Linked DNA regions of Homo sapiens. The protein of the gene in region 5 purifies or fractionates together with the protein of the main gene of each other region. This does not show direct contact. Each region holds a gene or a part of one and is shown on either strand. Other genes may lie near its edges. The genes, in order: TENT4B, NOC3L, SPOUT1, LARP1, MNDA, ATXN2 and HP1BP3.

The links.
Region 1: the proteins of MNDA (region 5) and TENT4B purify together in Homo sapiens (affinity purification with mass spectrometry; one large-scale study listed by BioGRID and IntAct). This does not show direct contact.
Region 2: the proteins of MNDA (region 5) and NOC3L purify together in Homo sapiens (affinity purification with mass spectrometry; one large-scale study listed by BioGRID and IntAct). This does not show direct contact.
Region 3: the proteins of MNDA (region 5) and SPOUT1 purify together in Homo sapiens (affinity purification with mass spectrometry; one large-scale study listed by BioGRID and IntAct). This does not show direct contact.
Region 4: the proteins of MNDA (region 5) and LARP1 purify together in Homo sapiens (affinity purification with mass spectrometry; one large-scale study listed by BioGRID and IntAct). This does not show direct contact.
Region 6: the proteins of MNDA (region 5) and ATXN2 purify together in Homo sapiens (affinity purification with mass spectrometry; one large-scale study listed by BioGRID and IntAct). This does not show direct contact.
Region 7: the proteins of MNDA (region 5) and HP1BP3 purify together in Homo sapiens (affinity purification with mass spectrometry; one large-scale study listed by BioGRID and IntAct). This does not show direct contact.

What each region holds. Positions count from the first base shown.
Region 1 is NC_000016.10:50,159,806-50,163,305, reverse strand, and holds part of TENT4B (terminal nucleotidyltransferase 4B), read right to left. Parts: intron 1-3,500. UniProt on the Homo sapiens protein: Terminal nucleotidyltransferase that catalyzes preferentially the transfer of ATP and GTP on RNA 3' poly(A) tail creating a heterogeneous 3' poly(A) tail leading to mRNAs stabilization by protecting mRNAs from active deadenylation.
Region 2 is NC_000010.11:94,335,833-94,338,939, reverse strand, and holds part of NOC3L (nucleolar complex protein 3 homolog), read left to right. Parts: intron 1-203; coding exon 204-332; intron 333-1,065; coding exon 1,066-1,163; intron 1,164-3,107. UniProt on the Homo sapiens protein: May be required for adipogenesis.
Region 3 is NC_000009.12:128,823,295-128,826,794, reverse strand, and holds part of SPOUT1 (28S rRNA (uridine-N(3))-methyltransferase), read left to right. Parts: intron 1-165; coding exon 166-255; intron 256-361; coding exon 362-411; intron 412-642; coding exon 643-773; intron 774-1,745; coding exon 1,746-1,818; intron 1,819-1,925; coding exon 1,926-2,024; intron 2,025-2,620; coding exon 2,621-2,723; intron 2,724-2,900; coding exon 2,901-3,048; intron 3,049-3,500. Other genes in the region: KYAT1-SPOUT1 (uncharacterized protein LOC127739546), read left to right, coding at 166-255, 362-411, 643-773, 1,746-1,818, 1,926-2,024, 2,621-2,723, 2,901-3,048. UniProt on the Homo sapiens protein: S-adenosyl-L-methionine-dependent methyltransferase that specifically methylates the N3 position of a uridine in 28S rRNA. Required for association of the centrosomes with the poles of the bipolar mitotic spindle during metaphase.
Region 4 is NC_000005.10:154,800,377-154,803,876, reverse strand, and holds part of LARP1 (la-related protein 1), read right to left. Parts: intron 1,871-3,500; coding exon 1,478-1,870; intron 588-1,477; coding exon 464-587; intron 338-463; coding exon 132-337; intron 1-131. UniProt on the Homo sapiens protein: RNA-binding protein that regulates the translation of specific target mRNA species downstream of the mTORC1 complex, in function of growth signals and nutrient availability.
Region 5 is NC_000001.11:158,834,351-158,837,850, forward strand, and holds part of MNDA (myeloid cell nuclear differentiation antigen), read left to right. Parts: intron 1-3,500. UniProt on the Homo sapiens protein: May act as a transcriptional activator/repressor in the myeloid lineage. Plays a role in the granulocyte/monocyte cell-specific response to interferon. Stimulates the DNA binding of the transcriptional repressor protein YY1.
Region 6 is NC_000012.12:111,515,816-111,519,315, forward strand, and holds part of ATXN2 (ataxin-2), read right to left. Parts: intron 2,613-3,500; coding exon 2,434-2,612; intron 549-2,433; coding exon 339-548; intron 1-338. UniProt on the Homo sapiens protein: Involved in EGFR trafficking, acting as negative regulator of endocytic EGFR internalization at the plasma membrane.
Region 7 is NC_000001.11:20,773,808-20,777,307, forward strand, and holds part of HP1BP3 (heterochromatin protein 1-binding protein 3), read right to left. Parts: intron 2,944-3,500; coding exon 2,790-2,943; intron 1-2,789. UniProt on the Homo sapiens protein: Component of heterochromatin that maintains heterochromatin integrity during G1/S progression and regulates the duration of G1 phase to critically influence cell proliferative capacity.

The DNA.
Region 1 (3,500 bases), on a different chromosome or scaffold from region 5:
TAACTTCAAAGAACAAGGACACTAAAATTTCCAAACTTATCACTAGTACTTTATTAAGTCCAAGTTCCTGGAAATTAGCCAAAAGTCACCTAATTATAGAATTAAAACACAATCCTATGTATTCTTATTCTTGCTTTGGCAGGAATGTACAATACCTGACAGTGCTAAGAGTTAAGTTACTTTCACAAAATCAAAACAGTGACTACAAAGGGCCAGTAAGGGAAAACTAAGGGACTAAGTCCCAATTCTCAGGTCACAAAGCTGTTTAGATAAAACAATTTATTCTAGGATAGATTTGAAGATCAAGTATCTATTCTATAGAGTCTAAAGGTATTATTCAGGTATAAAAATACTGTAAGAAAACTTTACCACCACCAACAACAAACCACTAACCACAGGTTTACTCCCTAAAATATAGCCAAGCCAACAGACTATAAAATATCCTCATATGAAAAGACAGGACTCTCAATTTTGAAATAAACCCCACAGTTTTACTTTTTTATGTTTTTAGAAAACGAGGCTAAAGATCTACTTCATGCTAGTAACTAGTTTCTAAGAAAAAGCAACATGTAAAGGAAACACTGAAAATTACTTCAAAGACAAAAAAAAGTTAAAATGTTACTGCTAAGAGTAAAACCAAAGAAAAACTGGAAAATTAAAGCCTTTCAAGTCACAATTTTAGAGATTTTTCATTGAGAAAGTTCAATACTGCCAAGATGTTTTAAAATAAAAAAAGTTAAGATTAGATGAGGCTATTTTTATTGATTAATATAAGGCAAAACAGGCTATCACTACACATATTAGAACCGCTCAAATAAAAAAGTGGTAACACTAAATGCTAGCAAGGATGCAGAGAAACTGGATATCTCATATATTGTTGATAGGAATATAAGAGGATATAGTCATTCTAGAAAATAAATAGTTCAGCAGTTTCTCTAAAAACCAAACATGCACTTACCATACAATCCAAACATTTGGGCATTTATTCCCCCAAAATGAAAACTTTATATTCACATAAAAATATTTATATACATGAATGTTTATAGCAGCTTTATTTGCAATAGCCAAAAAACTGGAAACCACCCTTCTGGTATGTCCTTCAATAAGTAAATGGTTAAACAAATTGTGTGGTTCAGCCATACTATGGACTACTACTCAATAGTAAAAAGAAATGAACTACTGATACATGCAGCAATTTGGATGGCTCTCAAAGGAAGTATGGTAAAAGAAAAAAAGCCAAAGTTACATTCTGTATGATTCCATTTATATAACATTCTCAAAATGGCAAAATTACAGAGATGCAAACAGATTAGTGGTTGCTGGAAGGGTGCGTGCGGCTATAAAGTGGTAGCATAGGGAGCCCTGAGGTGATGGAGTAGCTCTGTATATAGAACTATAGACTGTTACAGTGGCTATCCAGATCTACACATGATAAAATTGCATACAATTATATATATACACACACACACAAATACATGTGAAACTGGTGAAATCTAAAAAAGGCTTATGGATTGCAACGATGACAATTTCCTGGTTCTTGACATTAAATTATCGTTATGTGAGCTACTACCATTAGGTGAAACTTGGTGAAGGGAACATGGGCTCTGTACTATTTTTCACAACTTCCTATAAATCTGTAATTATTTCAAAATAGAAAGTAAAAAAATTAGTAGGGCTATGTATGAGGAGGTTAATATAATAACAAATGGAAAAGGTTTAGCATAGCATTTGAAACACGGTAATAAAGGCTTCCATTTTATTGAAACTTTTATTACATTAATTTGAAAACACAGGTTTCCGCACTAAATATATACAACTATTTCAGCAAAAAGCATGACTTGAGCTAGAATTCCTTAATTTAATTACCAAATACTATGTGAAATCTCTTGTGCACATGGTTAAGATTGTTTTAAGACTTAAAATTGTCCAAGTGAATAGGGAACCAGTACACAACATAAATGGCTCAACATTCAGCTTTTTTCCCAAAAATCTTTAACTCAAATGTCTTTTTACATCATCAAGTAACTTATCAGATGGAAATAAATGTATCATCTGCTGTGTGATTCCAAATTAAGGAAAGTCTAACTCAAAGCCATCCTCAACTTGAATATATATAATCTCTTACAAAAAAACAATTACGTGTAATCTTAAGAATAGTGAAACAAACTCAAAGCCTTTTTGGCATTCCACAGCAGCTGAGTCCCTACCAAATATTCTGGGGTGGAAAGAACATTCTACTGGCCATCCTCTGAATTCCTCAGCAGACTCTAGGCTGTCCAGTCAGCTCTGTAGGAAACAGCAAATACCAGGTGCTGGTAACTAGTCTCTAATTCTTCAAAAAAGCATTATCTTTGGCCTACAGCCCCTTCAAGATTACTCTATACCTATGTGTGTGTAAGTGATTAATACAGTCTCTAGTGTTGTGGGTGTGATCCTGAAATAGTTTCCACCACTAAATGTTACTCTTAACAGAGTCAACAAAAGAGAGAATAGAAAGCTGTGTGAAATCATACAAAAGCTTGATTTTCTACTTTCCACAGGAAAAAAAATTACTTTAATTTTCTCAGCTTCAGCAGGTGCAAGAATATCTAACCACTGCCATGACGTCTATACCCTTCCTGTGATATTCAGTATACAGGTTATCTGAGAACAAGTGAGAACCATCTGATCAGTTCCGTATCACCAACGGAGCCCTTAAATTCTGTTCCCATGGACCCTTCTGTACTTCTAACACTATGATTTGTTGGCAGGAATTTCACGGAAGAAATTGAGATGTAAGGCCATCTGGCATGCCAGGATCAGAATTTTTCTAATACACACCCCCGTTCCTGACTTAGAATTTTCTAGTATCCCTTTCCCATCCTATCTTTCCTGTAATGTAGTAAGCCTTTTGTGTGACCACTGGGTAGACAGACTCCAAAAAGTCACTCACCGTTTCCTTTGCTTTTCAATAGTTAAAACTTTATGAGTGTTAAAAAAGAGTCCACAAAGACGAAGGGGGAAAAAAAAAGTCCAAACACTGAAATGCCAATGATTAATGGTGACAGTATTCAATGATCACAGATTTTGGATAAAAGATGGAAGTTGTGGAATGAAAGTTAAGTTAGCGGCCGGGCGCAGTGGCTCATGTCTGTAATCCTAGCACTGTGGGAGGCCAAGGCAGGCAGATCATTTGAGTCAGGAGTCCAAGACCAGCCTGGCCAACACGGCGAAACCCCGTCTCTACTAAAAATACAAAAATTAGCCGGTGTGGTGGCGGGTGCCTGTAATCCCAGCTACTCAGGAGGCTGAGGCAGGAAAATCACTTGAACCCAGGAGTGTTGAAGTTGCAGTAAGCCAAGATCACGCCACTGCACTCCAGCCTGGGTGGCATAGCAAGACTCCGTCTCAAAAAACAAAAACAAAACAAAACAAAAAAAACAAAGAAAGTTAAGTTAGTTGAACACAGTATACTAAATTTTGAGACATTCTTAAATATGAATTATATTGTTAGTGTACAA
Region 2 (3,107 bases), on a different chromosome or scaffold from region 5:
CAAGCAAAGATAAAATTTTTTTTTGCAACTCTTGTTCTTACTATATAAACTTAAATTGTTTTTTATTAAATCTAGGTGTAAAGACTTTATGCAAAGCTCTTATACAACCATAAATTTAAATGCAAATACAACTACAAACCAGTAACACCTCTTATATTAACAATGTTAATTTAACCAATTCTTTTTATGTGACATTTTTGCAGACTTTCCCCAAAACAGATCTACTGCTTGACAGTGAATCTCAGGGAAGTGGAGTTTTCCTTCCTGAACTGGATGAGCCTGAGTACTGCAATGCTCAGAACACTGCTCTGTGGGAACTGCATGCTCTGCGGGTAAGAGTGGCCCTGGTTTTTTTCTTTTTGGGGATGTTTGTGAATAATTGTTTTCCAGTTTTTCTTCAAATAGTTGTTATTGCCAGAGTACTTAATTATATTTTGTTCTGGGGCTGCCTTTTTTAGAATTCCTGTGTTAGTATGCTACATTTTACTTTGCTGTTACTATTCTTTAAGCTGTTGAGGTACATTTTCTAAGGAAGCAGAAAACAGTGTCAGTTCTGTAGGGTGCAGTTGTGGAAGATTTACTGAAACCTTTCCCTTTATTGAAATCTTTCCCTAACACTCTTCAGAGGATTTGTTATCAGGTACATTTCTGTTGAGTCTTATCCAAGGAGACTTTAGTAAGCCCTGTTTCAAGATGGTTTCACCTATGCAGTGATCCTACAGTATGGACAGCATTAGAGTGAGACTTGTAGAAAATAGAAGTGGCAGGTAACCTGTTGTAAATTAACTTTTTTCACTCTGAAAGAGGAATTGCTTTTTGATTTTTCTATTTATATTGTAAAAGCAAGACTAAACTACTTCACTGGTAACTTGATTTGTGTTTTAATCCTATTAGCAAAGATAATATTCTTTCTGTGGGTATGTGCTTCTAATGAATTACATATACTGTACATAGGTGATGAAAAAAAATTTGGTGTAATTTTATTTAAGAAAATCTTTGCTGTGGCTAGTGTTTTTTGTAAAGGACTGACCTGTGCAGAATGTGATTGTCCCGTTTTCCCTTCAGAGGCATTATCATCCCATAGTGCAGAGATTTGCAGCCCACCTGATCGCTGGAGCACCTTCTGAAGGCTCTGGAGCACTCAAACCAGAGTTGAGTCGAAGGTAATATTTAGCATTGCCTTATTCTAAAACTACAGAATTGAGCTGATAGCCACTTACTATGAGAAGACTGTTTCATAAAGTAACATACTACAAAATGTAAAGTGCCAGTTGGGTATCTGGATTGGTCTTGCTTCATATTCCTGAATTGTTCTGAAAGAAAACATGCTATGATTTTGTTGATCACTTAAAACATTTTTTTTCTTCTTCTGTCATTCAACTTGAAAAACATTTTTTTAATCGTGAAAAGTTTCGCACATACAGGATAGTAGAATGGCATAGTGAATGTCCATATGCCCCCCATCACTCAGGTTCAACAATGAATAATCTATGGCTATAGGTGCTTCATGTGAAGATAAAACACAAGTCAACCAAATTAAGCTTCCTTGCTTTCTCGCTCGCTCGGTCTTTTTTTTTTTTTTGAATGGCCCTGTTAGGGCAGGATGAGGAGAAAAAAAAAATGAGGAGAGGGAAGAAAAGAGGTGCTTTGGAACACTGCCATCCAGAAGGGCAGCTTTTTCTTTTTTTGGCCCTTGCAGAGTACCTTCTGACCTATAAGCAGCTTGGATGGGTACTTCCAGCATCTACCTCACACCCAGATGGGGAAAAGGTCCTCCTAAAAGAGTCTTCTTTTCCCTGAACTGTTTACTTACAAAATTTTCACAAGTACAGAAAGGTGAAAAATAGTAATTACTTTTTTTTTTTTTTTTTGAGATGGAGTCTCACTCTGTTGTCCAGGCTGGAGTGCAATGGCGCAATTTCGGCTCACTGCAACCTCCGCCTCCCGGGTTCAAGCGATTCTCCTGCCTCAGCTTCCCGAGTAGCTGGGATTACAGGCACCCGCCACCATGCCCAGCTAATTTTTGTAATTTTTGTAGAGATGGGGTTTCACCATGCTGGCCAGGCTGGTCTCGAACTCCTGACCTCAGGTAATCCACCTACCTTGGCCTCCTAAAGTGTTGGGATTACAGGCGTGAGCCACTGTGCCCAGCCAGTAATTACCTTTTTTTAAATACAGACAGGAAATACTTAAGTTATACAGAGAAAGAGAGAAAATGGTATAAAAAATCCCTCAGTCCATTTATGGTGCCATAAAAAATGCCTAAGACTGGGTAACTTATAAACAACAGAGGGCCAGGCTCAGTGGCTCACGCCTGTAATCCCAGCACTTTGGGAGGCCGATGCGGGTGGATCACCTGAGGTCAGGAGTTCAGGACTAGCCTGGCCAACATGGTGAAACCCCATCTCTACTAAAAATACAAAAATTAGCCAGGCGTGGTGGTGGGTTCCTGTAGTCCCAGCTACTTGGGAAGCTGAGGCAGGAGAATTGCTTGAACCCGGGAGGCGGAGATTGCAGTGAGTCGAGATCTCGCCATTGCACTCCAGCCTGGGTGACAAGAGCGAATCCGTCTGAAAAAAAAAAAACAGAAATTTATTTTCTCAGAATTCTGGAGGCTGGGAAGTTGAAGATCAAGGTGCTGGTAGGTTTGGTTGACTGATGAGGGCGCCTCTCTGCTTCTGAGATGGCATCTTGTTGCTGCATCTTCTGGAGGGGAGGAACCCCATGCCCTCACATGGCAGACAGGACAGAATGGGAGCAGTGCCACAGCTTCACTTCATGAAGCCTCTTCTATAAAGACTTTAACCCATTTATGCCAGAGGTTGCAAATTTTTTTTGTGTGTGAAAAATCAGACCTTGGCGATGACCTTGAGCAGTAGGATATAAATAACTCCTACAAGCTTAGTGTTCTGATAATGGAACACTAGTAGGCATAAATGGGTTAATCCCATTCATGGCTTAATCACCTTTTAAAGCTTTTGCCTCTTAATACCATCACATTGACTGTTAAGTTTCCGTATCTGAATTTTGGAGGGGACACATTGAAACTATAGCACCTTACAATGTACTCATTACCCAGAATTAATATTTTGCTGTAGGTTTTTTCC
Region 3 (3,500 bases), on a different chromosome or scaffold from region 5:
CATGCAGTGGCATGGTCATGGCTCACTGCAGCCTCTACTTGCTGCACTCAGATGATCCTCCCACCTTAGCCTCCTGAGTAGCTGGGATTATACGCGTGCACTTGTAGACAGGAGCTCTTGAAGGGGCCACAGCTGGATCCTGAGCCCCCATCTCTCTCTCTCCAGGACTGTGGAGGGGGAATTCACAGGAGTTGGGAAGAAGGGGCAGGCGTGCGTACAGCTGGCCCGGATCCTGCAGTACCTGGAGTGTCCACAGTAAGGGGGTCACTCCCCTAAGCATGAGGGAGGGGTGTGTCAAAGTGGAGACCAGGTAGGAGGCGGCTTCCCCTGGGAACATCCTGAGGTCAGCATTCTTTCCTAGGTACCTGAGGAAGGCGTTCTTCCCCAAGCACCAGGATCTACAGTTTGCAGGTAACGCTGTATGGGCCCGCCCCCCCATTTCCCCTGGATCATGCCACAGACACTGAGACCACCCAGTCCTACCCTGCGCTGTCCAGGTGGGAAAGCAGGCCTGGGAGAGCAAGACCTGTGTCTGATGCCAAGACGCAGGTCTGTGGCAGAGCCGGTACTCCGCTCCAGGGTCCCCACTGCACCCTGTGTGCCCTAGCACTTCCCAGACTCTTCCCGGCTCTGCCTCCACAGGGCTCCTGAACCCCCTGGACAGCCCCCACCACATGCGTCAGGATGAGGAATCCGAGTTCCGAGAGGGCATCGTGGTGGATCGGCCCACCCGGCCAGGCCACGGCTCCTTTGTCAACTGTGGCATGAAAAAGGTAGGAACAGAAAGATGGGCTAGGACACACCTCCAGGACACACCCTGGCAATGGAGGGCAAGCAGATGGATGTTGCGGAGAGCCCTGGACCTGCCCGAAATCCCTCACTGATGCAAATTTGGGCCAGAGAATTGTGCAAAATGGGGCTCAATAGATAAAGCCAGGAATGAATTTACTGTTGCTTAAAAAGCAAATCAACAGAAGACAGTCCTCATGCTCCAAACAAAACCCTGCAGAAACAAGTTGAAAGTCACTCTGGAGCTGCTCCCATGTGGCACAGAGCCAAGCTGGGATGAGGGCATTAATTTGCCGCCTCTTTATCCTCAAGCCTCCTCAAATCAGAGGCAGAAACCTTTACATGTATGGAGTCCCTTCCTGTCAGAAAGCACAACCCAAGCGCAGTGGCTCACGCCTGTAACCCCAGCACTTTGGGAGGCTGAGGCAGGCGGGTCATTTGAGGTCAGGAGTTTGAGACCAACCTGGCCAATATGGTGAAACCCTGTCTCTAATAAAAGTACAAAAATGATCCAGGTGTGGTGGCACGCATCTATAATCCCAGCTACTCGGGAGGCTAAGGCAGGAGATTCACTTGAACCCAGGAGACAGAGGTTGCAGTGAGCTGAGATCGTGCCACTGCACTCCAGCCTGGGTGAGAGAGCCAGACTCCATCTTAAAAAAGAAAAAAAAGAAAAAAAAGTTGCAGAGCTACCAAAATGTAGAAAACTGAGTTTCATCTACTTCTATCCTGTGCCATGAGCGCCCCAAAGGTGCATGTTTGGCCAGTGACCTGTGTTTTGCACAAATGATCTCTTGTGAGCAGGTTCAGCCGGTGCCAGGGGTGGAGGGTGGCAGGTTGACCTGGACCCCTTGGTCCCTTGCCAGCCCCGGGGCTCCCCTGGTGGCATCTGGAAGAGCCGTGGCCCCTGCTGATCTTGAGAGGAATGGCACCCATTTCTTCTGGCTTCTCCCCAGGAGGTGAAGATTGACAAGAACCTGGAGCCCGGGCTTCGGGTGACTGTGCGACTGAACCAGCAGCAGCACCCAGGTATCTGGAAGGTTCCCCAACCCCTGGGTTGGCCTGATGAGCTCCAGGGTTCAGCCACCTGCTTCCATTCCCTCACCCCATCTTTACAGACTCTGTTACCCCTCCAGACTGCAAGACCTACCATGGCAAAGTGGTATCATCGCAGGACCCTCGCACCAAAGCTGGTCTCTACTGGGGCTACACCGTCCGACTGGCTTCCTGCCTCAGTAAGGACAGACCTTACTTCTCTGAATATCCATCCATCCCTCTGGGAGGTGGCCGGGAGCCTTGCCTGACCCAAATATCAGACCAGGGTTTTTGTCCTGTCAACTTGCTGTGTGTCCTTGGGCAAGTCCTTCCCCTTCTCTGGGCCTTGTTCTCCCTGGATGCACTGCCTGGAATGCTGTTAAGGACTACTGAGCAAAAGTATCATTATTGATCAATAATGTTTCTGTAGGGTTGGGAATGGAGGCAAAAGGGCCAGAGAAGTCAGAGGCCCACTTCATGTTCTTGGTGCCTCTTCCTATCCAGTCTCTGCCCTGTTCCCCAGCCAAGCACAGGCTTGGTGTCTGCCCTGCTCAGTCCTTGACTTTCCAGGAACAGCTCTACCCACCCCTGCTCGGTACACACACACCCCTGCCTCAATGCACACACAGGCAGAGCTCTACCCACCCACCCCTACCTTAGTACACACACGCACACACACACACACACACACCACACAGCTCTTCCCACCCACCCCCGCCTCAGTACACACACACATAATACCCGGAGCTATGGCTTGTGGGGAGCAGGACCTGCACTGAGCTGGCCCCACCCCCAGGTGCTGTGTTTGCTGAGGCCCCCTTCCAAGATGGGTATGACCTGACCATCGGGACGTCAGAGCGCGGCTCAGATGTGGCCTCTGCCCAGCTTCCCAACTTCAGGTGTGTACCTCCTGGGGCTGCGGCCAGGGCAGGAGGAATGTGGCCAGGAACCTGCCTGGTGGGTGAAGCTGCACAGATGGGCCCCTGCTGTCTGGGGTGGGGAGGGACTGAGGTCTGGGCGCTGTGCTGGGTGGGGCCTCGGTGGCCGCTCAGGTGACCCCCTCTTACATGGGCCAGGCATGCTCTTGTGGTGTTCGGGGGCCTCCAGGGTCTGGAAGCTGGAGCGGATGCTGACCCCAACCTGGAGGTGGCTGAACCCAGTGTCCTCTTTGACCTGTACGTCAATACCTGTCCTGGCCAGGGTAGCCGTACCATCCGCACGGAGGTGAGCCCGCCTGCCTCCCCGACTGCCAGCCACTGGGGCCTTGGGATCTGTCCGAGGGGCGGGTGCTACTCTTGCCCTGTCACCCACCCTTGCCCGTGGCTGCCTTGTCTGGAGGTGGTCCTCTCATCCCCCTTGGCCTCTTGCCACAGCGACGAGACATGAGTGTAGCTGGGAGTCAACCATGGGTGCTAGTGCCCGTCCTGTGCTCCCAGACTGGGTGACCCAGGGGGCCCTGCCCACCCCTGCTCCGGGCCTCTGGTTCCTTAGCCGTGCGCTCAGTGATCTCCCAGGGCCCTGGTTCTGCCACTTCCTTGTGTGTGACCACGGTGGGCACAGCAGCTCTCCCCTTGGGGTCTCACTTGCATCTGTCCCACGGGGGAAGCCACGTGCAGCTGGAGCCTTCGTCCTGGCCTCATGGAACCTGTGTACCCACTTTTGGGGTCAGGCATAGG
Region 4 (3,500 bases), on a different chromosome or scaffold from region 5:
AGCCTCAGAACACAGAGCAGGTGAAGGATTTAGCACTTCCTTAGCTCAGACAAGGCAAGGGAGAGAAGCAAAGCACTGGAATGCAATGAAGTAGACCCAAGACTCTGAGCAGCCCGACAGGAATGCCTCACCTTGGCATCCAGTGTCCGTCCTTCTTTCACCACTGGGTAAAACCGTGATGTCTGGCTTGAGTCTTTGAGCTGTGGTGTCCGGGGAGTGCGAGGGGTCCTGGTGTTGCGGTAGTTTGGTGACTCTGGGACAGTGGTTGGTAGAGAGCGGGCGATGGTGGAGGGCTCAGGAGCACCAAACAACTTGTTGGCCAGGGCATCCGTAGGAACTGCAGAGGCAGAGAGAGGAGTCAGGAAGCAGGGAAAGGCCTGTGGCATCCACCCCAGGATAGCCCCCAGTCCAAGGGCCCTAGATCCTCTCACCCATGTCAGGATCTCAGGTGTCTGCTTCTCACCTTGCTGGAACCGAGGTGGCCCAGGAGGAACTTCCTGGTTGGGATCCACAGGGGGCTCAGGGGTCAGTGTGTCAAACTGCTCCCGGCTGATCATATTGACCTTTTTGAAGTTCTCGACTTCTTGCTGCAGAGGTCATGAGATGAGTGGGGAAAGATGTAAGTAAGCAGGCTGCTCTAGCCTGTTTAAGGAATCAAGACTGGCAGGAAGTTGGAGAGGGCAGCTCCCACGTCGACATACGTGGAATTCTGGTCCCCAGGCTCTCAGCTGCCCAGTCACCATTCCTCACCCCAGTTACCTTGGCACAAGTGTGCTAGCCCAGAAGAAGACAGTGCTTGCCCTGCCCTCCCTGTAGTAAGACTGAGATCAGGCTGACAGTAGCTCCTCAGGAACTCACTACACACTCCCCCCTGAAAGCTCCAGTGTTTCCCCATCTCTCTTTCTGCTACTGCCTTATCACACAGTGGCTGGGCAACTCTCCTTCCTCCTTACTTCCAGGAAACACACTGCTACTTATTACAAAGGCTCACCCTAGGACAACCTACCACCAAACATACCCACTCTAAAATCCCACAACAGAGATGTTTTGACTATTTCCAGGCAGCAGCAATTTTTCAAAAGACTTATCTTTTCTCCATTTTCCATACTCAACACAAGCTTCTTAAAAGGCTTCTAAATTTTTAGATGCCTAAATATTTAAGACTAGAAATAACAATCTAACCCTTTTTCTGTTCCCCACAAAAGTGTCTAGCCAACTGTCAGAATATTAACTATGGATCCGCAGATAGGATAATAATCACCACCGCCTCACCTGAAGAGTTTGCAGTGTTTACACATCACCCCTCACTCCTAATGCCCAAGCTAGATGTCAGTCATCATCCCCTTCCCATATATAAAAATCCTGAGACTCTGAATTATAAGGACCTGCCTAAAATTGCACAGCTAATCAGGCTTCCTCTTCTCCGTACAATACAGGCACACCAGGCTCCACACTCACTGCTATGTCCAAGCCTCACCTTGATCTGGGAATACTCAGGTTCAAACTTTTCAGCCCACAGGTCCTGCTCATAGTAGAAGAGGCCATCATTAATGACCTTGGCCAGTTCGGCGCTCATCTTGGCACGCGAGGTGTGGTTGCCTGTGCGGTCCCCCCCTGGGTGCCGGCGCATGTAATGTGGTGTCTGGGTGACAATGAGGATCTTGTTGACATCCCTGTCATCAATCTCATAGTCAGATTCCTCATCAGACCAGGCAGTGAAGGTGTTCTTCCGCCCATCCATCTGCTCCATCTCCTCGTCAAACAGAAAATCCAGTTCCTCTTGCTCATCCTGATCCTTGGACATCAGCTGCTGGGAAGGCAGCTGCTGAGGCAGAGAGGTCAGGTGGGAAAATCTGGACTCCTCTGACTTCTAAAATAGGACAGACGAAGGGGAAAAGGAATCACCAGAGATCCTTGGCCCAGATTCTGTAGCTATACCATGAGAGGGAAGCTCCAGCCTCTCAACATAAGACTGTTCAACTATGACCCTGGTAACACCAGCAGGTCACAAGCGTCATCCTGGGAGTCAGCTTTATGACTATGAGAAAGGATGTTTCATAGAAGTCCAGGTTCCTCCACTCACAGCTCATATCACAGTCATGCACAAACAACTGATGATGACTTCTCTATAGGCAGGAACTGTGCTCTCATTTACCTTTATATCCTACATAGCACCTAGCTTAGGAGTGGACACACAGAAGTTCAGCAGGTTGATTCATCCACTTATCCATCTATTCAACATCTCCCAATAAACTGGAAGCTCCATGATCCACAGCTGCCTTGCTTTCCATTATATACTCAGTACCTAGACGGGGATCTGGTAATACCAGATGTTCAATTATATAATAAATGAGGGAGTACCCATTAGTCCTAAGCTCTGTATGAAAAACCTAAAAGCAGAATAAGACAAGGTCCCTGTTACTTAGGGAGCTCAATGGGAGAAAGTCAACCAAACAGCCAACTGCATTGTGGTATGGTAAAGGCTATAAGCAGGTTTGTGGATGCACACAGTTAAAGGAGCTTAGTCAACTGTGACTAAGAATGGTTACGGAAGGCCTCCTTCAAGAAGTGACTACCACAGGATGAACATAAGTAAGCCAGATGAAGATAGGGACAGACTAGGCAGAAAGAATACCATTGTTCCAAAGGCAAGAGAAAACACGGTGCCTTCAGCAAAGAAAAACTATTTGTTTTGATAGACTGAATATGAGACGCTGAGAGAGAAGCATTTGTCTAAACCCACAGTATTTATTCAAAAGTAGATTCCCTGCTGTGCCAAGAGCACATAAACTCTAAACCTATCTTTTTTTAAGGTTTAAGATAGACCAGGTCAGAGTAGGGGCTCTAATTCTGGAATGGGAGCTAAGTCTGACCCCTGTTTCAAACAAAACTTTGTAGGCCTGGACTTTGTAAAACCCTCATCTACTTACTACCTTTCTCCTCATGTCTCTGGCTGGATCTCCAACACTTTTTGAGGGCTGAAGCCACAACTGTGGGGAATTCTGTGTATGAACAGGCAGGCAAGAGAAAGGAGATGAGAGGTAATCACTGTGGGAAAATAGATAAGGGAGTATAGAATTCCATAGACCCAAAGTTCAAGGTCAATTCTGCAGTCTCCTCACAAGCCCCAGGCCAGAGGTCTCCAAAGTGGGTGACAGTGAGCAGGTATGTGGAGAAAAATTCAGCACTTAAAAAGGAAGTAGTAATTTTAGTTAGAGATTGCAATACTTCTTTAACAGTGAACTTCATCTGTTTATATATATAAACTATTTCTAGAATATTCTAATGTCTCCTTCCTTTCATCTGCAGATGGAGAAACTGAAGCCTTGAGGTATGAACAGGCTTCCCAAGGTCACCTTGCCATTAGTGCAGCAGACTTGTGTAGACTAACTCCATATTTGGGCCATGCATCTGCTCCCTCTCCCTTCCTTCTTCTGAGGACCTAAGGGGCTTACATACATGATAGTGGGGACATACTCAGGGAAAAGACACCAAAAACG
Region 5 (3,500 bases):
GCCTCCCATGTAGCTGGGACTACAGACACGCGCCACCATGCCCGGCTAATTTTTGTATTTTTAGTAGAGAAGGGGTTTCACCGTGTTTATCAATTTTTATCACACTGTTTGGATTCTGTTGTTGTTGGAGTTGATTTGTAGGAGTTGGCTGTATATTCTGGATATAAAGCACTCATCAAATATATAAAGTGTGAATATTTTCTCTCATTCTCTAGGTTCCCTTTTTTACTCTGTTAATTGTGTCTTTGATGTATATAAAAATTAAATGTTGTTGTAGTCTAATTTATCTATTTTATTGTTGTTGTTGTTGCCTGTGCCATCGGTGTCATGTCCAAGAAACCCATTGCCAAATCCAATGTCATGGAGCCTTTCCCTTTTGTTTTATTCTGAGAGTTTCATAGTTTTAATTCCTACATTTAGATATTTGATATACTTTGAGTTACATTTTGTATATGATGTAGGTAAGGGTTCAACTTTTTGTATACAGATGTCACAATTGCCCAACAGCATTTTTGAAAAGACTGTTCTTTCTCATTAAACAGCCTTGACGTCCATGTCAAAAATCAATAAGCCATATTTCTCAGGGTTTATTTCTATGCTATCTATCATATTCCATTGTTCTTTATGTCTGTCTTTATGCCAATACCACACTGTTTTGATTATTGTGTCTTTATAACAAGTTTTGAAAGCAGGAAGTCTGAAACCTCCATGTTCTTGTTTTCAAGATTAAAAAAGGCTATTTAAAGTACCTTTAAATTCTACATGAATTTTAAGACAAATTTTTGTGTTCGTGTAAAAAACACTTCTGGGATTTTGCATTACAGATTACATTGCAAATTGCATTGCATATGCAGTTCCTTGGGTATTGACACCTTAACAGTATCAAGTCTTCTAACCCCTGGACACAGATGCCTTCCCATGTACATTTGTGCCTTCTTTAATTCCTTCAAAGTGTTGTATAATTTACCACCTTGATTAAGTTTATTCCTAAGTATTTTACTACTTTAAGCTATTGTATACAGAAAAAGAACTGTTTCCTTAATTTCCTTTTTGTTCGTTGTTAGCGTATAAAAACACAACTGATTTGTATGTGTTGCCTTTGATTCCTGTAACTTTGCTGGATTTGTTTATCAATTCTAAGTATTTACATAGAATCTTTGGGACTTTCCACATATAAGATCATATCACCAGTAAAGAGAGAGAATTTACCTTTTTTCTTTCTTATTTGGATATTTTATATTTTCTGTTTATTGCCTATTTTTGGTGGGGGCGGGGGGTGGGTGTTAAACCCTCAGTACTATCTCAAACAGAAGTGAACAAAAAAATCATCCTTGTCTTTTTCCTGATGTTTCAGGAGCAAGAGAAATGTTTTCAGTCTCTTACCATTGGGAATAATGTTAGCTATGGTGTTTTCGTATGTAGACTTTACTATGTTGAAGTAATTTTCTCCTATTCTTCGTTTACTGAGTGTTTCTAACATGAAAGGCTATTTAATTTTGTCAAATGCTTTATTTATTTTTTGCATCAATTGAGATGATCATTTTTTTTTTGTCTTTCATTCTGGTAATGTGGTGTATTATCTTAATTGATTTTTACAAGTGAAAAATGAGCATCTGTGTATTTTTCCTCATCTTTCAGGAATAAGAGAAATATTTTCAGTCTTTTACCATTAAGAGTGTTAATTGATTGTTGCATGGTGAGCCATCATTGCATTCCAGGGATAAACCTTAAATGGTCATGATGCATAAATAAATTTAACGTGCTATATAATTATGTTCGCTAGCATTTTGTAAAAAAAAAATGCATCGACATGCATAAGGGATATTGTTTAGAAAATTTTATTTTTCTAGTGCCTCTGTCTGGCTTTGCATTGGAGTAATGCTGAGTCATACAATGAGTTTGGAAGTGTTCCCTCCTTTTCAAATTTTGAAAGACTTTGAGGAATTTTGGTCTTAATTCTTCTTTATATATTTGGTAGAATTTACCAGTAAAACCACTTAGTCTGGACTTTTCTTTATTGAGAGGTTTTTGACTTCTGATTCAGTCTCCTGACTAGTCATAATGACTGTTCGGATTTTCTATTTCTTTATGATTCAAAATTTGCAGGTTGTATGTTTCTAATAATTTATCCATTTATCCATTTCATTTAGGTTATCCCACTTATTGATGTATAATTGTTCAAAGTATTCTCTTTATTTCTGTGAAATCTGTTGTAATGTTCTCTTTTTAGTTTCTGATTTTATTATTTGAGTCTCCTTCTTTTTCTTCTATGTCAATTCAGTTAAAGTTCTGTCAGTATTATTCACATTTTCAGAAAACCAACTCTTTTTTTTATTGATTTTCTTTATTATTTTTCTAATCTCAATTTTACCTCTAATTTTTATTTTTTCCTTCCTTTTGATGGCTTTTGGTTTAGTTTGTTCTACTTTTTTAAGTTCCTTATGGTGTAAAGTCAGATTATTGATTTGAGAGTCTTCTTTGTAAATGTAGTTGTTTAAATCTGTAAATTACCCTCATCACCATATTCTTTGCATTTAATGAAATGATATGTTGTGTTTCTATATAATTTCTCTAAATATGGATTTAAATTTGACTTGTGATTCTTTGTACATGTTTCATTGTTTGTGTTGTTTATTTTCACAGGGTCATGAATTTTCTAGTTTTCTTTCTGTTGATTTCTACTTTTATTCCATTATGATAAAAAAATATACTCTGTATGATTTCAAACGTTTAACATTTATTAACACTTGTTTGGCATCCTAATTTGTGGTATATGTTGGGACAATGTTCCATATGTTCGTGTGAAAAATGTGTATTCTACTGTTGTTGGCTTTACTGTTTTGGATATATCTGTTAGATATAATTGGTCTATAAGTGGTCTATAATGTTTTTCAATATTTATTTTTTCCAAATTTTCTTCTGTCAGATTGTTCTACCTATTATTGAAAGTGGAACATTAAAGTCTCTTACTATTACCTTAGAGTTGTCTATTTCTCCCTTCAATTCTGTAAATGTTTCATATATTAGGAGCCCTGATGTTTTGTGCATGTATGTTTCTAATTGTCATATCTTCTAGGTGAACTGGCCTTTTTAACACTATGTAATATTCTTTGTCTCTTATAACACTTTTTGACTGTTATTTTTATTTTATCTGATCCTAGTATAGCAAACTCTGCTCTCTTATTTAATATTTCAATGGAATATCTCTTTTATTCCTTCACTTTCTATCTTTGTCCTTACATCTGTAAAATGAGCCTCTTGTATGCAACATATACTTGGATCCCCTGTTTTTAAATTCATTGTGATATATATGTATATATAATTTTAATATGCTTTTTGATTAGTAAGTTTAAACCATTTACATTTGAACTAATTATTGATAAGGAAGAACTTAGAACTTATTGTTGCCATTTTTTATTTGTTTTCTGTATGTCTTAATAGGTTTTTGTCTCTTAGTGACTTCTTTTTGTTGATTTTTTTCTGTAGTGAAACATTTTTAT
Region 6 (3,500 bases), on a different chromosome or scaffold from region 5:
GGCTGAAGAAAGTTCATTTGTTTAACTACTGTATACAGTGCAAATAAGGAGGGGGAAGGCTGTGGGGCAGACCCTTCTGGGGCTGTAAAGAAGCATAATTATCAGGCAGAGATAAACCCCCTTTTTAACAACAATTCAAGAGAGTTTATAGCTTCACACATTTATCAAATTTCTCTCTAATGAACAAAAGGTTAATAGAAATAGTTTTAATAAACTAAAGTTAAAACACAGAAATTATAGGTTATTAAATAATGAAGAGGAAACTATTTTGTAATTATAAACTCACATAGGAGTTAAACAAAGACAAACAAAAACATGAACAAATTGTGGTATTGTACCTTCTGAAGACATGCGTTTAGGCATAGTAGAGACAGGAGCTGGAGAACCATGAGCAGAGGGGTGAGACGGGGGTCTGGATGGCCGCGAGGGGGGCCTGGAGGGCGGCCGTGTAGGGGTGGCTGCCCGAGGTGGAAGAGAGTTGGGACCTGACTGGTAGCGAGAAGGTGGGCGAGAGGAAGGAGATGGGCAAGGCGATGGCCAGGGAACACCTGACAGAACAAATGATATGAAGGAAAGTATAAAAACTAAAGAAAAAAATGAGGGAAAAAAGTAAACAGAAAAAAAGTAAAATGACAAAAATGATTTCTTGTACATTTTAACCCTTTGAGGACAGTCATTTGATTTGTGATAAGTTTTAGCATAACTTAACTGACATAAATTCACATTTTACTTTAACCTCCTTAAGATTAAGTCTGTTTAAATGAATACACGTTCCCAAAGGGTTAATTAGGATCTATACACACTATTGAAGAAGACAGTTAAGACTTTGCCTATTAATCCTGCTTCTATAACTGTTTCTCAGTAACTGGTTGTTTAAAGGAATATAACATACACTAGATAATTTCACATAATAAATCACAATAATTCCTACTCAGGAGTAAGATTATTTACTGTATTAGTTTTAACTCTGAGGCATAACGAAAATAAGCAGTAGCTATTATATCCAATTAGAAATGCTGGTTCCTTACAATTATCTATGATTTTCATCAGGTTTACACTTGAACCCAGAACTCAGTTTGGAATCTTATTAAGCAAGTCCCATTTAAGTAGAAATAAAACATTACTCTTCTAGAGTTTGTGACTCCTGTGAGTATCAAATGATAATATTCATTGCTATTTCAAAAAAAAAGTCTTGACCTCATTAAACTAGAAAAAGGGAGACCTTCTAAATAATTTATACAGTTAAACACTTATCTAAGCGACTGCTTAATAAATACTGCAACTACAAAGCAGTCATCACCAAATAAATTTATACTGATGGATATGCCTAGGTAAAGATACAGCTAGTATTTAACATTACATATCACTTACCTTAATCTTATCAAACAGTCCAGGTCTCCTCTCCATAGGGTTCCACACACTTAAGTATCATATATTTCTCAGCCCCCTTCAGGTTTTTTAACTTTAAAATTCTGTTTATAAACAACTAAAATCTTTCCTCAGTGAGCAAAGAAATTTCACCCCCAATATTAAGTACTGAAAATACTCAAGAGTGTCCATTTGGAGAGGAATTCTGGAGAAAAGACTCAATGAAAACAAATGAAATTGGAAACTTAGTGTTCTCTATTTTCATCTAACTTTCCAAATTTAAATAGCTAAAATTGAATGTCCACTCTTTTCCCACAAAGTTAGTAACATACTATTGCTATTACTATTTCCATACCATCCATAGAACTGTTGTTCAGTATCCCTGATTTATGGAAAAGATCCACAACCTACAAGATATATTCAACCTAGATTTAGAGGTAGAGTAAAAAATGTCTTCCTACTAAAGATTCAGGTTTCTTTTACTTAAGTTGCTAAACTGTAACATCCACCCTTAGACTAAGGGTTGTTTTTGTTGTTTTTTAAGCAAATTTCTCTAGTCACTTTCTTCACATGACTCTTGATCATGTCTTGTATTATAAGTTACCTCAGATCCTTTCTTGAAGTAAGCATAATATAGAAACAAATAATGAAAATTGATCTATATTAACCACAGTGTTGCACATAGGTTAGAATTTTCCATATAAATTATGTCTAAAAAATTTTATTATCCAGTGTTTTTAAAATTGAGAACCTACCCAAAGTTTCCAATTTCTTTATATGTGAAGTGTTTTTGGCCAAGTGATTGTCTTGGGTTAAATGTAGCACTTTATCTTAGTACATCATGAATATTTCATCATGCTAAATAATATATATGTCAATGACATATACAATGTTTTACTAATTTAATATCCACAAAAGCCAATTTTAAGTAATGCTGAAGTGAAAGCTACTCACCAAATCATTAAAGTGCACATTCATATCAGTTATGTAAACTATTTTAAGTATTTTAAGTATTTAGAAAACTATTTTATCAATGATATTGACAAGTCTGGTCAAAATACTTGCCTCCATTAACTACTCTTTGGTCTGAACCAGAATTCGGGTTGAAATCTGAAGTGTGAGAAGTGGATCTTGATGGCATGGAGCCCGATCCAGGCTGGCCCATACGCGGTGAATTCTGTCTCCCACTTCCCCAGGATATGACTTCTCTATTTCTTTGTCCAGGAGGAATATATTTATTTTCCCTGAAAATGAGAGATCCTCTAAATCATTTTATTCTAAAAGGTACCAAGCCAATGAAACATATCTAAAAGTCATCTAGACAGAAGGGAATGCTTGTTACAAAAAGGTTCTACACTAAACCAAACTGCCTCACTCCCAGATGCCCCTGTTCTTCCATCTTACCCTGAGTTCTAACCTCTGGACTGTCCCTTCCCTTAGATTCTGCTCCTAAGCACAAAGTTTAACAGATGCGTGCTCATTCTCATCCCACTTGACCTCTCTATGGCTGATTCCATCAATCTTGGTCTATCTTCACAACATTTTTTGTCCTTCACTTTCTCAATTTTATTTTCTCTGAGATCTCTTCTCTCACTGGCTGTTCTTTGGTTTTTCATGGCTCCAATATCGGCAATGCTGATGAAACCTCAAACTGAACCGCCAGTCTCACAGTGTCAACATCTATCAGTGGACATGTCAATTCAAATCACCAGACTCTAAGCTGACTGCCTTTAAGAGAGGATGCATCTCTTACTTTACTAGATAGGTAGCAGGTATTTCTCAACACGTTTATGAATAAATGAAAGACCCACAAGCCCACATATGCAATTAGCTGCACAAACGGAGTCACTGTTTTTCCCCTCAAACTTGCTCCATGTTTCCTCTCTCTCTTACCAGTACATCCATTAAGTCACTTAGTTATCAAATAAACCTCAGGCTCATCCCTTAACTAGGTGGTTACCAAATTCTCACAGTTGAACTATTTCAGTGCACTAACTGTTCTCTGTGTCTCAGCCAGTCCTCAATGCCCCAGGGTTTATTCACCCCATCTCCTTCCAACAGGGTGCTCTTTAGCATGACATGCCAAGTCCTTTAATGACCTCAGTTCCTACTATCAACTGCCACTGCTGCAC
Region 7 (3,500 bases), about 140 Mb from region 5:
ATTTTTCTCTTAGCTGCAGGAGAAAGGAGTCACATAAATTAGCACTGGTATAAGGGCTCAGTACATAAGACAAATGAGAATTTTAAAATGCACATTAGTTAACAATTACAACAGATGCAATATGGTATAGTGGAAAAAACTCAAGCTCTTAAAGTCAGAAAACCTTTGTTTGTATTTTCACTCAAACATTTACTAGCTAGCTATATGATCTTAGTAAATGATGTGAGTCTTTCTCCTCAGCTATAAAACAGTAATATAGAACCAACTATTTCCCAAGGTGTTGCAAGAATTATAAGAGTATGTTTATCAAAACAATTTTGTGAGATTTAAAGCATTATGTAAATTTTATTCTGAGTATATAACAGTACTCTGTGCACCTAATAGGTGCATTAGAACATTTAACAACAGACGATAGGCTGGGTGCAGTGGCTCATGCCTGTAATCCCAGCAATTTAGGAGGCTGAGGAGGGAGGACAGCTTGAGGCCAGGAGTTCAAGCCCAACCTAGCCAACATAGTGAGACGCCATCTCCATTAAACACACACACACACACACAAACACACCCACACCCACACACGATAGTTGCTATAAATTCCACAGACCTTAGCTATACTTATGAAACTCAGATAAAGAATACCCTGAAGATTATAGCTAGAAGGTATAGTTATTACTAAGTTATTCTTTTATGGTCATGTGCTGTGTAACAATATTTGGTCAACAGACCACATATACAATGGTGGTCCCTTAAGATTATAATGGAACTGAAAACCTCCTATTACCTGGTTAACATGATAGCTGTGGTAATATCACAGCGCAGCACGTTACTCACTTGTTTGTGGTGACATTGGTGTAAACAAACCTACAGTGCTGCCAGTCATACAAAAATATAGCATATTGGCTGGGCGCGGTGACTCATGCCTGTAATCCCAGCACTTTGGGAGGCCAAGGTGGGCGGATCACAAGGTCAAAAGATTGAGACCATCCTGGCCAACATGGTGAAACCCCCGTCTCTCCTGAAAATACAAAAATTAGCTAGGTGTGGAGGTGCACGCCTGTAGTCCCAGCTACTTGGCAGGTTGAGGCAGGAGAATCGCTTGAACCTGGGAGGTGGAGGTTGCAGTGAGCCCAGATCGCGCCACTGCACTCCACACTCCAACCTGGGTGACAGAGTAAGACTCCATCTCAAAAAAAAAAAAAAAGCACATTACAATTATACATAATACCTGATAATAAACAGCTATGCTACTAGTTTATGTGTTTACTATACTATACTTTTTATCATTAGAGTATATGTTTTCTACCTACAAAAAAAAAGTTAACTGTAAAACAGCCTCAAGCAGGTCCTTCAGAAGGTATTCCAAAAGACAGCACTGTTATCATAGGAAATGACAGGTCCATGTGTGTTGCTGCCCCTGAAGGCCTTGAGTGGGACAAGATCTGGAGGTGGAAGACAGTGATATTGATGACCCTGACCTTGTGCAGGCCTAGGTTAAGGTGTGTGTATGTGTCTTAGTTTTGTTTTTTTATAAATATGAGGTCTCACAACGTTGCCCAATCTAGATTCAAATTTCAGGACTCAAGCAATCCCCCCACCTCAGCTTCCTAAGTAGCTAGGGCTACAGCTGTGCACCATTGCGTCCGGCTTGTGTCTTTGTTTTTGGTAAAGTTTTAAAAGTTTTTAAAAATAAAAACTTTTTAGTTTTAAAAGTTGCTAAAAATAAAAACTTTTTAGTTTTAAAAGTTGCACACAGTAGTCCTAGGCCTTTGCATTCACTTACCACTCACTCACTCACCCAAACAACTTCCAATCCTTTAAGGTCCATTCATGGTAGGTGTCCTACACAGGTATACCATTTTTTATCTTTTATATTATATTTTTACTGTACCTTTTCTATGTTTAAATACACAAATACTTACCGTTGTGTTATAACTGCCTACAGTATTTAGTACAGTAACATGCTGTACAGGTTTGTAGCCTAGAAGCAACAGACTATCCCATAAAGCCTAGGTATGTAGTAGGCTGTACCACGTAGGTTTGTGTAAGTACACTTTATGATGTTGGCACGATGATGAAATCGCCTAAAGATGTATCTCTCAGAATGTATACCCATTGTTAAGCAATGCATGACTATAGTTAAAAGCAATTTCTAACTGTTCTGACCAATTATGAAAAGAGTGGAATGAATACTATCAGCTCTCCTGCAAAAAAAAAAAAAAAAAAATTAAAAATTAAAAAGTAACTGCCATCACTTTATATAGATACACATCAATAGCAAATTTTACTTTCAGATTCTCAAAGCCAATTCTTCAACTGAATATTTCATCAAACATATATAGACTTTTAGGTCACACTACCAATGGCTTGATACAAATCAATGCCTTCTAACATAAGCACACAAAAACAACCCACTCCTGGCACAGAAGTAGGAATAAAATAGTGAAATGTCTTCTAGGTCAGATTTTTATAGTTATGTTTCATTTCTTATTGAAGTCTTGCCAATGCTTAAAATATCAGATACTCCCACAATAAATTACAAGCTCAAAAACACATTCCAAAGCCAATGACAAAGACTTTTGGATTATTCAAACCATTGTGTTCTGCTAACTACAGCATATTCTAACAGGTCAAACAACTATATAATAAACCTATTTCAAATGGTAATTCTAAAAATTAAATCCAAATAGCAAATACCTAGCATAAACCAATGTTATAACACTTTAAAACAATCTAATCTAAAGTCCTTTTACACATTCTTCAAATATAAATAGCAAGAAGACATAACTCCTTACTCCTTTTTGGTTTCCTCAGAAGACTTATTTTCTTCCTTCTCTTCATTCTCAGGTTCCCCCTTTGGCTGCTCTGCCTCACTCGAAGTAGCAGGTGGAGTTTCATTCTCTTGTTCTTCTACAGTGGAGACAGATTCCTCTGAACTTATGTCTGGTTCTAAAAAATCAGGTGAGCAGAATTGCATAAGCAGATGTATTCCAATCTGAGTCAATAAAAGGTAAAAGCTTATCTTATTAAACGGACCAGCCAAAGTCTCCAATTAACAAATGAATTCTAAAATGAAAATGAATGACCACTAATGCAGTTTTCTTACATTCTTTATGTCACTCAAGTTTCCTGGTCAGGTGGTTATTTATCTATTATTAGAAAAATAGACCAGGAAATTACATAGAAAGGAAAACTCATTTCATCCCCAATTGTTTAATTATTCTACTTTGCAATATTCATGAGACTCATAATTAAGAAACTAGCCATTTTATAATTCAACAGGCAAATCTCAGAGAATAAGTAATTTAAAAACTCATGTATTCTCCAAGAGGAATGACTGAAGCAAGAGTAGAAATATGAGGGGAACATGGAGGTCTGCTGCTATTTGTGCCTTTCCTTCACAGCATGTCTCTGAGTAGCTACTATAAAACACAGAACCCCAGGCACTGGTTATGCAGGGACTTCAGAGAACTCCAAAAAAAAATAAAAATAAAAAAAATAAAAAA